Linked DNA regions of Homo sapiens: region 1 is linked to region 2. Evidence: fine-mapped expression QTL. A gene starts in region 2. The other region holds a variant in brackets. All regions are shown on one strand. Distances are between the middles of the regions. Region 1 overlaps CELA2A (chymotrypsin like elastase 2A). Region 2 holds the start of CPLANE2 (ciliogenesis and planar polarity effector complex subunit 2).

Evidence for each region. PIP is the estimated chance that this variant, and not a neighbour inherited with it, causes the effect. A credible set is the group of variants that fine-mapping cannot tell apart.
Region 1: its variant is the best candidate, but not a certain one, in a credible set for the expression of CPLANE2 in prefrontal cortex (GTEx, PIP 0.62).

Annotation. Positions count from the first base shown.
Region 1 is chr1:15,468,400-15,473,771 of GRCh38, forward strand. CELA2A (chymotrypsin like elastase 2A) reads left to right here. Exons shown (of 8, transcript NM_033440.3): 8 at 3,591-3,692. The coding sequence ends at 3,608. Among named protein-coding and RNA genes, the nearest start is that of CELA2B, 5.0 kb to the right of the region's middle. The variant G/C (reference allele first, on the strand shown) is at 2,695.
Region 2 is chr1:16,235,007-16,240,378 of GRCh38, forward strand. It overlaps CPLANE2 (ciliogenesis and planar polarity effector complex subunit 2), which reads right to left and starts at 2,177. Exons shown (of 5, transcript NM_030907.4): 1 at 1,625-2,177. The coding sequence starts at 1,736. RefSeq lists an enhancer at 1,670-2,214 and a silencer at 2,055-2,234.

The DNA.
Region 1 (5,372 bases), 770 kb before region 2:
TCTTGTAAAAGTAAACAACTCAGAGAGGTGTCTCCTTTCAGCTTCCACAATAACTCAATTTGTTTTTAACAATGAACACATTTGTTTATAACAATGAGCATTAAAATTATTTATTAAAAATAATAGGCCAGGTGCCATGGCTCATGCCTGTAATCGCAGCACTTTGGGAGGCCAAGGAGGGAGGATTGCTTGAGCCCAGGAGTTCAAGAGCATCCTGGGCAACATAGCAAGACTCTGTCTTTACAAAAAAATTTTTTTTAATTACTCAGGCACGGTGGTACATGCCTGTAGTCTCAGCTACTTGGGAGGCTTGGGTGGAAGGATCACTTGGGCCCGGGAGGCCAACGCTGCAGTGAGCACTTAAGCCTGGGCGACATAGCAAGACCCTGTCTCCAAAAATAATGATAATAATACCTGGCATCAATATTAAGGAGCAGCCATGGATACACGCAGCAGTAGGTGAAAGCAGCCAGAACAGGAAACCCCGTCACAAGAAAGGGATGCCTGGTGGCTCACGCCTGTAATCCAGGCACTTTGGGAGGTCAAGATGGGCAGATCACCAGAGGTCAGGAGTTCGAGACCAGCCTGGTCAACACGGGGAAACCCCGTCTCTACTAAAAATACAAAAATAAGGTGGGTGTGGTGATACGTGCTTGTAATCCCAGCTACTCAGGAGGCTGAGGCAGGGGAATCACTTGAACCTGGGAGGTGGAGGTTGCAGTAACCCGAGTTCGCACCACTGCACTCCAGCCTGGGCGACAGAGCGAGACTCCATCTCAAAAGAAAAAAAAACACACAAAAAAGAAAGAGTTGCCCATGAGAGGGCAGAGGAGCCACCATGCCTCGTACTGGATGCTAGAAGGAAAGAGTCGGACACTCTGTGCCAATGAGGGACCAGCTCAGTTTGCTCTTCTGTAAAATGGGACTTGAACTAGACCAGGACTCCTCCACAATTTAGGCGCTAGAGCAAATGGGAGTTATGGTATTCGTGGCAGAGCCCCTAAAGAAGGGGAAAGCTGGCATCTGACTTCACTAAGTTTAATTTGCAGAGAAGTGTTAAATTGAATTAAACTGACACTTATAAAACCAAATATGAAACTGCAGCCATGAGCACGTGGTCACAGGAGGAAAACTAAACTGTCAAAATAAGCAGGTGGCTGCTTCCAAGTGTTCCCACTGATTCTTGCCAGATCCTTGTTCATTTGTCTGTCTGCTGGCATCCTTTTGCCAACAAGTGGTCACAAGCAGAGATTCCAAAGACGTTTGTTGGACAAAAATGAAAAATCAAAAAGACAGTAGCCATTAATCATTAATGGTGCTTTTTTATATCTAAATTGGGAAAAACCCATCTGAGTCCACCTTTGGAGGCGCCACCCACATGTCAAAGGAGCCTGGCCTGAGACTGACTGGACGAGAGGCTGCTTAGGGGCCTTTCTCAGCCAAATCCTAAGACCGTTTTCCAGCCCCAGCTGCTGTGGGAGTCACCATGCAGCTGGTCCTGGCAGCAACCTGGGGACCTGAAGCAGGGGCAGGGGCAATTGTCCCAATTTTTTTTTCCCAGCATCAGCTGTTCCCAGCCACAGACACAAGCACAACAGAACAGGCCAGATCCCGAAGCATGGCCAGATGGCAGCAGGGATCCACGGGGCAGCACGCCTCGCAAGGCAGCTGGGCAGAGGCCCTGTGTTCATGGGAGAGCAGTCGGGACAGGCACAGATGCCCGGTAACGGGTTTCAGAAGGGGGAGAGCCAAGCAACCAGCTGTCCTTGGGTGGGGGCTGCCCCTGGCAGCAGCGGAGGAGCTAGTGAAACCTTGCAGTAGCCCCAACCCAGGGACACAGTGTGTGCAGCCTGGAGTCACATACCACTAGAGCCCTGGGGGTGCCTGAGAGCACCTGCCTGGATAAACCCAGACAGGTGATGAGCCAAGGTCAGGAAATACAAGCAAAAGAGCAGAGAAGCAGAGGAGACAAGTGGCCTGGGGCATTCATCCTTTCAACAAATGTCCATTGAATGACAGTCACATGTGAACCTTCAGCAATCCTTAGTTTTTATTCTTTTTCCGGAAGGTAATACATACTCTTTGTAAAAATATTAAAAGACTATAAGAGTATCAGGTAAAAAAGTAAGAAGTCCCCCCTCATTTTACATCTCCAATTCCACTCTCCAGAGGTAATCATTGGTTTTGTTTTTGTTTTTTAAGACAGAGTCTCGCTCTGTCACCCAGGCTGAAATGCAGTGGCTTGATCGCAGCTCAATGCAACCTCCACCTCCCGGGTTCAAGCGATTCTTCTGCCTCAGCCTCCTGAGTAGCTGGGATTACAGGCACACACCACCATGCCCAACTAATTTTTGTATTTTTAGTAGAGATGGGGTTTCACCATGTTGGCCAGGCTGGTCTCAAACTCCTGACCTCAGGTGATCTGCCCGCCTTGGCCTCCAAAAGTGCTGGGATTACAGGCATGAGCCACTGTGCCTGGCCAAGTTGTCATTGTTAACAGCTTGTGTGTGGTCTCAACTTTATGTGCATATATAGCTATATATTTACGTAGATAGACACTGTCTTCTATGCAAAAACTAAGATCTGAGTCTTCATACTGTTCTGCAGCTGTTTTTCACTTAACACCTTATCACATTTTACATGTTAGTACATACATGTCATTCTTTTGAACAGCTAAATAGTATTCCATAGTTT[G/C]AGTGTAATGAATGCAGCTTTCATGTTTCCTATTTTTCACTCTTACATTGTGCAATGAACATCCTTGGACATAATTCTTGCACACTGGTCTGAGTATTTGTGCTGTAGCAGCTGGATCTCCTGCAGTTTACAGCACTGGATCATGAAGTTGGCATATCAAAATGTTTAACAGGCTGGGCGCGGTGGCTCACGCCTGTAATCTGAGCACTTTGGGAAGCTGAGGCGAGTAGATCACTTGAGGTCAGCAGTTTGAGACCAGCCTGGCCAACATGGTGAAACCTCATCTCTACTAAAAATGCAAAAAATTAGCCAGGCATGGTGGTGCATGACTATAATCTCAGCTACCCGGGAGGCTGATGCATGAGAATCACTTAAACCTGCATAGTGGAGGTTGCAGTGAGCCCAGATCGCCCTACTGCACTCCAGCCTGGGCAACAGAGTGAGACTGTCTCAAAAAGAAAACAAACAAACAAATAAAAAAAAAAACGTTTAACAGACACTGATCAACAGCCTCTGGAAACAGTTATAGCCCCAACCACAGTGCATAACTGCCTTGCAAACAGCAGTTTTGATTTAAGAAACAAATGAAATCTAAAAATATGCCATCCACACATTTGGAATATAATTTTTAGGGGTTCGAAGGCCCCCTACCCTGAAGCCCACACAGGACTCCTGGCTAAGACCCCCTTTACAGGAAGACCCTAACAGGTCAATGAAAAGCTGTGATCACATCTTTTTTTCCGAAACGTCATCAGAACTCCTCAGGCAGGAGCTACTGTAGTGTGGGCTGCCTGTAACTCACATGAGTAGCTTAGCCCAGGAGGACAGAGACAGGAAACTGCCATGCACAGCTCTGCGGTTAGGTGAACCTGACGATTATCTTGTGTGTCCTGCAGGTGATTGCAAATAACTAACCAAAAGAAGTCCCTGGGACTGTTTCAGACTTGGAAAGGTCACAGAAGGAAAATAATATAATAAAGTGACAACTATGCAAATCACATCTTGATGAGAGATTTATTAGCAATCCGTCCTAACATCCAGGGCTGTGGGCACAGTGGCACAACCCTGTAATCCCAGCACTTAGCACTTTGGGAGGCCAAGGCAGGCAGATCACTCGAGTCCAGGAACTCAAGACCAGCCTGAGTAACATGGCATAACCCTGTCTCTACTAAAAATACAAAAATTAAATGGGCGAGGTGTTACCCACCTGTAGTCCCAGCTACTCAGGAGGCTGAGGTGGGAGGATCACTTGAGCTCAGGAGGTAAAGACTGCAGTGAGCCAAGATCACTTAGTCGCACTCCAGCCTGGGCGACAGAGTGAGACCCTGTCTCAAAAAAAAAAAAAAAAAAAGAATTTCGCATCTACGTCACCCTGCCCTACTGAGACCTCAAGGACCCAGCCCACTTTAGAACCTGACACATGACATCGTTGTCCAACAATATATAAATGGAGCACTAAGCTCCAGCGAAGGAAGTGGGCTGTAGCAGCTTCCTGCACTCTGCCTCCTCTGCCTCTCTTTCCTCCCCTCCCAGCACAGAAGCCTGGATTTCTGTGCAGGCGCTGCCCCATGGGATCCCGGAGGTTCTGCCGAAACCTCATGGCCTAGGACCAAGGCTGGAGCCCGTGCTCCAGGCCTGGCCAATCAACACATTGCATCCCCTTCCCCACCACAGCGATTGGCTCAGGGATGGGCATGTGACCTGAGACAGGTCCAATCAGAGAGGTTGCACGACTCGTGCAGGGAGCTACCGAGGGCTGTCACTCATTCACTGCATGGGTGTGAGGATGAGGGGATGTGAGGCTACAAAGCAAAACGAGAGGGGAAGGGGGAGACGGGGTTATTTTGCTCCCCAGCATACATCTGGCAATGTGTGGAGACATTTTTAGTTGCGGCAACTGTGTGGGGAGGGGGAGGGACTGGCATCTAGCAGCCTGGGGCCAGGGATGCTGTCAAACTCCTGCAAAGCACAAGACATAGACACAGCCCTCAAAACAAGAATCATCTCGCCCAAAATGTCAACACTGCTGCAGTTGAGGAACTCTGGACCAGAGATGCGGTGGTGATCTTGTCCTCAAGGAAGGGAGAACCCAGAGCAGCTACAGGCCACTTAACGGAGCCTGAGATGAGACCTCAAAGCAGAAGGCAGAAGCAAAAGTTGAAGAAAAGCCAAGTCCAGGGACCATCACCAGGGCCCTGAACCCAGCTCTGCTCCTGGACTTTGCCATTTTGTGGCCCAATGAATGGCCCTTTGGCTTAAGCACAACTGAGTGAAGTTTTGTGTCACTTTCCAATCCTGAAAGCGGCTGGGTACAGTGGCTCACGCCTGTAATCCCAGCACTTTGGGAGGCCGAGGCAGGTGGATCACCTGAGGTCAGGAGTTCGAGACCAGCCTGACCAACATGGTGCAACCCTGACGCTACTAAGTAATACAAAATTAGCCGGGTGTGGTGGCGGGCACCTGTAATCCCAGCTACTCGGGAGGCAAAGGCAGGAGAATTGCTTGAACCTCCTAGTGGAGGTTGCTGTGAGCCAAGATGGTGCGGCTGCATTCCAGCTTGGGTGACAGAGTGAGACTCTGTCTCAAAAAAAAAAAAAAAAAAAAAAAAAAGTCCTGACAGCAACATGATGGAACAGACTGAGCATCTGTTCCTCTCCCTGTTTGTAGATAGGCACCCC
Region 2 (5,372 bases):
AGCCACCGTGCCCGGCCTCATCTGTGGCTCTTAATACTCAACCTAATTTTACAGAAGTCTGGGATACAAAGAGACTAGCCTAAGCATTATAGTCAGTCTGTTGATATTTATTTACTAGCTGCTCTCAGCGTTTGTTGTGGGGCCTGCATGACAACCACTGAATGATACATTCAGGTGCATAAACCCAGCTGTTAAAAAAAAACCCAAATGTCTGCAGTTAAAGTAAAAACACAAAAATTAAAAGCCATCACTGCCATTCCTCTAAGTTATGGCTGCTTAATCCTATCTGTGGCATAGATAATATGGTCAGTGGATTCTATGATGTTCCCAGAAAATCAGCTCAACCTTCACTCAATTCTCTTCCACTCAACACAACTAAATGCAAAATAAATACAATAACAGCCAACCTTCAGTGAACACCCACTGCATGCCAGAACCTGCTTGGTATGTTACAAACACCCTCCTTATTAATTTCCCCAGTAACTCTATGGGGTAAATACTGTGATTATCCCCATTTTACAGAGGTGGGACTTGAGGCTAGAGTTCACTTATTCCCAGCCATACAGCTAGCAGTGGTGGAGCCTGGGTCACTTGCCTGGGTATGTGTGACCCCAAATACAGTGTTGCCAGCCATCATGGGATTAGAGGGACAGTGGCCATATTAGAGGGTCTTTTTTTTTTTTTTTTTTTTGAGACGGAGTTTCACTCTTGTCACCCAGGATGGAATGCAATGGCTCGATCTAGGGTTGCTGCAACCTCTGCCTTCTGTGTTCAAGCGATTCTCCTGCCTCAGCCTCCCAAGTAGCTGGGATTACAGGTGCCCGCCACCACGTCCGGCTAATTTTTGTATTTTTAGTAAAGATGGGGTTTCGCCATGTTGGCCAGGCTGGTCTTGAACTCCTGACCTCAGGTGATTTGCCCACCTCGGCCTCCCAAAGTGCTGGGATTACAGGCCACTGCGCCCAGCCTTCTAGAGGGTCATTTTTTGAATTTAATATAATTTCTTTTAAAAAAACAAACAAACAGTTGACTTATTCACAAATTTTGGTTCTAGCTATCTCACTCTCTGGTCTTAAGTCTTCTGGCACCTTGCTTCTCCTGGCCAGAGCTGGGCTCCACAGCTGATTCCAGGCACCTCTGCCGGCCTGACAGCTGGGCCCTGCCTGGGTGAGTCAGTTTCACCATGGGGAACACCAGCGTCTCATCCCAGAGACAGCAGGACATGGAAGAGGCTCACCTCTATTTATTGGGGTGTGATCTTAGCCAAGTCTGTACCATGTGCTGTTGAGAGGTTAAATGGGCGTGCACTGTGTAACGTGCCCAACAGAGGGCCTGGCACCAGGGGAGTGCTCAATCAACTGCATCTCTGGTGACAGTGGTTGCTGGCAAGGTTTCTGCTGTTTCCATGTTCCTGGCTCTGACGATGGAATTAGCTCTAAGGAGATTTAGGTGTGGGGGTCCCAGAGCTAGGGCTTTCAGTCCCCCAGGCTGAAGACTGCTGAAGACTGCAGTGGAGCAGGCCCTCACTGCCCTGCCTCTCTGCTCTCCTCAGGGAGCAACAGGTGACACTCTTCTCCCCAGGGAAAGACAAGTGGCGGGCTAGAGGAAAGGGGGAGGCACTTACCAAACACCCGCCGGCGGTTCTTGCGCAGAATGCAAGCCAGGTACTCCTTGCCCTCGGCACTCTCGTGCCAGTTTGGGACAACCACCGAACCGGGCACGGGAGGTCTGGCCATGGCTGGGCACCGCGACGGGGTAGGGAGGTGACAGAATGCTGAGAGCAGGGAGTGGGAAGGGGAGTGACAGTACCAAGCCGGGCCTGTGATCCCTCTTAACTGCCCTCTGACTCTCCCGGGGGGCCCCAGAAAGTGCAGTCCCTCAGCCGCCTCTCTCCTTCGCAATGCTCCCTGGGGATAGTCATCCCATTACTGCCCATGGAGGGTATTCACACAGCCCCTCTCCCCTTGTCACCTCCGGGGGTCAGACAGCCCCGCTTCTCCTCTACCTTCTAGATCCCGACTCCCAGGGCTACCTAGCCCTCCCCGTCAGCAGTCCCGGCGGCGAACCGACCTGGGTGCCGAAGGCCCCTTTAAACGCCCACCCGCACTCCCGCCGCCCCAGCCCGCCGGGCCCACTTCCGCCCCGCCTGCGTCCGCCTTCTGCGCGTGCTGGCAGCTCCGGCGCAGGTGCGCGCGGCGCATGTGCGGAGGTTGTTGCCATGGAGACGCCGGAGGTTGGGTTGGGCGGGTTCCGGGAGGCGTTCGTCCCTCCTACAACGTCCGCAGCCTGCGCCGCGCGGTGGCTCTGGACTAGGCCTTTTCCTCTGGGTTGTGGATCCTCTTCTCTATGACTCCGTCCGATCCCTAGTCTTTCTTCCAAAACATCATGAAACCCCCCCTCCAGGAGCCTTTCATGCTTCTCTGTGTCTCAGTTTCCTCTTCTATAACGTGGACGTAACATGTTATTCCCTCCATAGCAGTGCTCCATATGTTTAGTTATGATTGTTGCTATTATTAATATTATTGCTCTATTAATCCTGCTTGGCAGGACCTCTAGATGACTTAAACATCTCTGGCTTCACTGATGGGGACACACACCAGCTCAGAGAGGTCAAGGGACTTGGCTCAAGTTTTAAAAAATGAGTCAGAGGCCCGCTGGATTGTATTTTTCATTCATTCATTCATTCAACAAATACTGAGCACCTAGCTGGGAATACAGTGGCCAACAAGAAGTCCCTGCTCTCCTGGAGCTGACTTTTCAGCTCTGAAACTCTGAGCTCCTCTCCACCGTTCCAGCACTGGACACCAGGCCTGTTACCCAGAAGGTGGGTGCTCAGTAAATGCCCACTGGTTGGAAAGAGTGCAGGTGGGTCATTACTGAGAGTTTGTCTATTACATTTAATTTTTACCATTATCTTTCCGCAATGCCTTCAAGTAGGGCAAATCACTGTTTTGAAAGGAATAATTTAGGAGTTAAGCTTTACCTAAGGCCACCCAAGTGCCAGACAGTGGGGACTTTACAGGGGTCACCTGATTTAATTCTATAAACAAACCTGTGTAAATAGTATTACCCTCTTGTACTGACGAAGACTCTCAGAAACATAACGTGACTTGTCTGAGGTCACACCGCACAGCTAGTCAGTGTGAAACCGACTCAGAACCCACAGCTGGCTGGGTGTGGTGGCTCACGCCTGTAATCCCAGCACTTTGGGAAGCTGAGGCGGGCAGATTGCTTAAGCTCAGGAGTTTGAGACCAACCTGGGCAACATAGTAAGACCCTGCCTCTACAAAAAAAAAAATACAAAAATTAGCCGGGCACAGTAGTGCACGCCTGTAGTCCCAGCTACTTGGAGGCTGAGATGAGAGGATTGCTTGAGCCCGGGAAATGGAGGTTGCAGTGAGCCGAGATCATGCCACTGCACTTCAGCCTGAGTGACAGAGCTAGGCCCTGTCAAAAAAAAAAAAAAAAAAAAAAAAAGAACCCACACTTACCTGACTCTAAAGTACTTATCTGTTCTGCCAGTTTGGGTTTTGTGTTTTTAAAACTTTGCCCCTAGCCACTAGGAGGGCTGTTCCTAGGGAAGCAGAAAGCAGCCAGAGGACTACGAACTCACAGATTTTTAAGGCCCATTATGTCTAAGAGAGGGGATGAGGATGTGTAAGACAAGGTGCTTTCTCTCAACTTGCTCACGCTGTGGCTAGGCAGAAAAACCAGATGAATAACCATTCCTACAGGATTCTGCAGGTGGAATCCTTTGCCCATACTCCCAGGTCACATGGTTCCCATTCCTGCAGCTGTCACATCTGCCCAGTCAGGGAGATTCACAGCTGTCCAGAGCTCTCTCCATGGGCCAGGAGTCACTCAGTGGCAGGGCTCTGATCTGAATTATTTCTGGATTTCCAGACTTCACATCCACCCATCTTTGGCTCGTGGAGGGCTCAGTGAGCGTGTGAGAAAATGAAGCAACTTGGCAGAATGAACGTGCCTGTTAATCTGCAACCCAGAGAAGATGTAAAGTCCTCTTGGGGCCATGTGCGGTGGCTCACGCCTGTAATCCCAGCACTTTGGGAGGCTGAAGCTGGTGGACCACTTGAGGTCAGGAGTTTGAGACCAGCCTGGGTAACATGGCAAAACCTTATCCCTAAAAATATACAAAAAAATGGCTGGGCGCGGTGGCTCACGCCTGTAATCCCAGCACTTTGGGAGGCTGAGGCGGGCAAATCACCCGAGGTCAGGAGTTCAAGACCAGCCTGGCCAACATGGTGAACCCTGTCTCTACTAAAAATACAAAAATTATCTGGCTGTGATGGCAGGCGCCTGTAATCCCAGCTACTCTGGAGGTTGAGGCAGAAGAATCGCTTGAACCTGGGAGGTGGAGGTTGCAGTGAGCAGAATCATATCACTGCACTCCAGCCTGGGTGACAGAGCTGAATAAATAAAATTATGTATTCAGTGGAAGGCTGATCAAGGACTCAAAAGAATGCAATCTTTTGTCTCCTATCTACTTTTTTTTTTTTTGAGACAGAGTCTCACTCTGTCGCCCAGGCTGGAGTGCAGTGGCACAATCTCGGCTCACTGCAACCTCTGCCTCTGAGGTTCAAGTGATTCCCCTGCCTCAGCCTCCCAGGTAGCTGGGACTATAGGCATGCCCCACCATGTCCGGCTAATTTTTGTTGTTGTTGTATTTTAGTAGAGACGGGGTTTCACCATGTTGGCCAGGATGGTCTGGATCTCCTGACCTCATGATCCGCCCACCTCAGCCTTCCAAAGTGCTGGGATTATAGGCATGAGCCACTGCACCTGGCCTTGTCTCTTATGTATTTCTAACCTGGAAGCCCCTGCTTCAAGCTGTCCTGTCTTACCAGACCAAACCAATGTACATCTTACACATATTGATTGAGGTCTCATGTCTCCCTAAAACTTAAATGCAAACTGTACCCCTGACCACCTTGGGTATATGTCTCAGGATTTCCTGAGGCTGTCACGGGCACATCCTTAACCTTGGCAAAATAAACTTTCTAAATTGACTGTGACCTGTCTCAGATATTTGGGGTTCACACATCCAACCCCGACATTCTGTGTCAGGGGCTGGGTAGGTCTGTGAGCCTGCAGATTTGACAAAAGCACTAGGCAGTTCTGAAGTTGGGGTCTATATGAGTCAGCCCAGGCTGCTGTAACAAAAATACCACAGTCTGGGTACTCTAAACAACAGAAATTTATTTTCTCATAGTTCTAGAGGCTGGAAGTCCAAGATCAAGGTGCCAGCAGAGTTGGTTTCTGGGTGGGGCCTCTCTTCCTGGCTTACAGATGGCCTCTTCTCTGTGCTTATACATGTCTGGTGTCTCTTCCTCTGTTACAAATAGGACATTAGT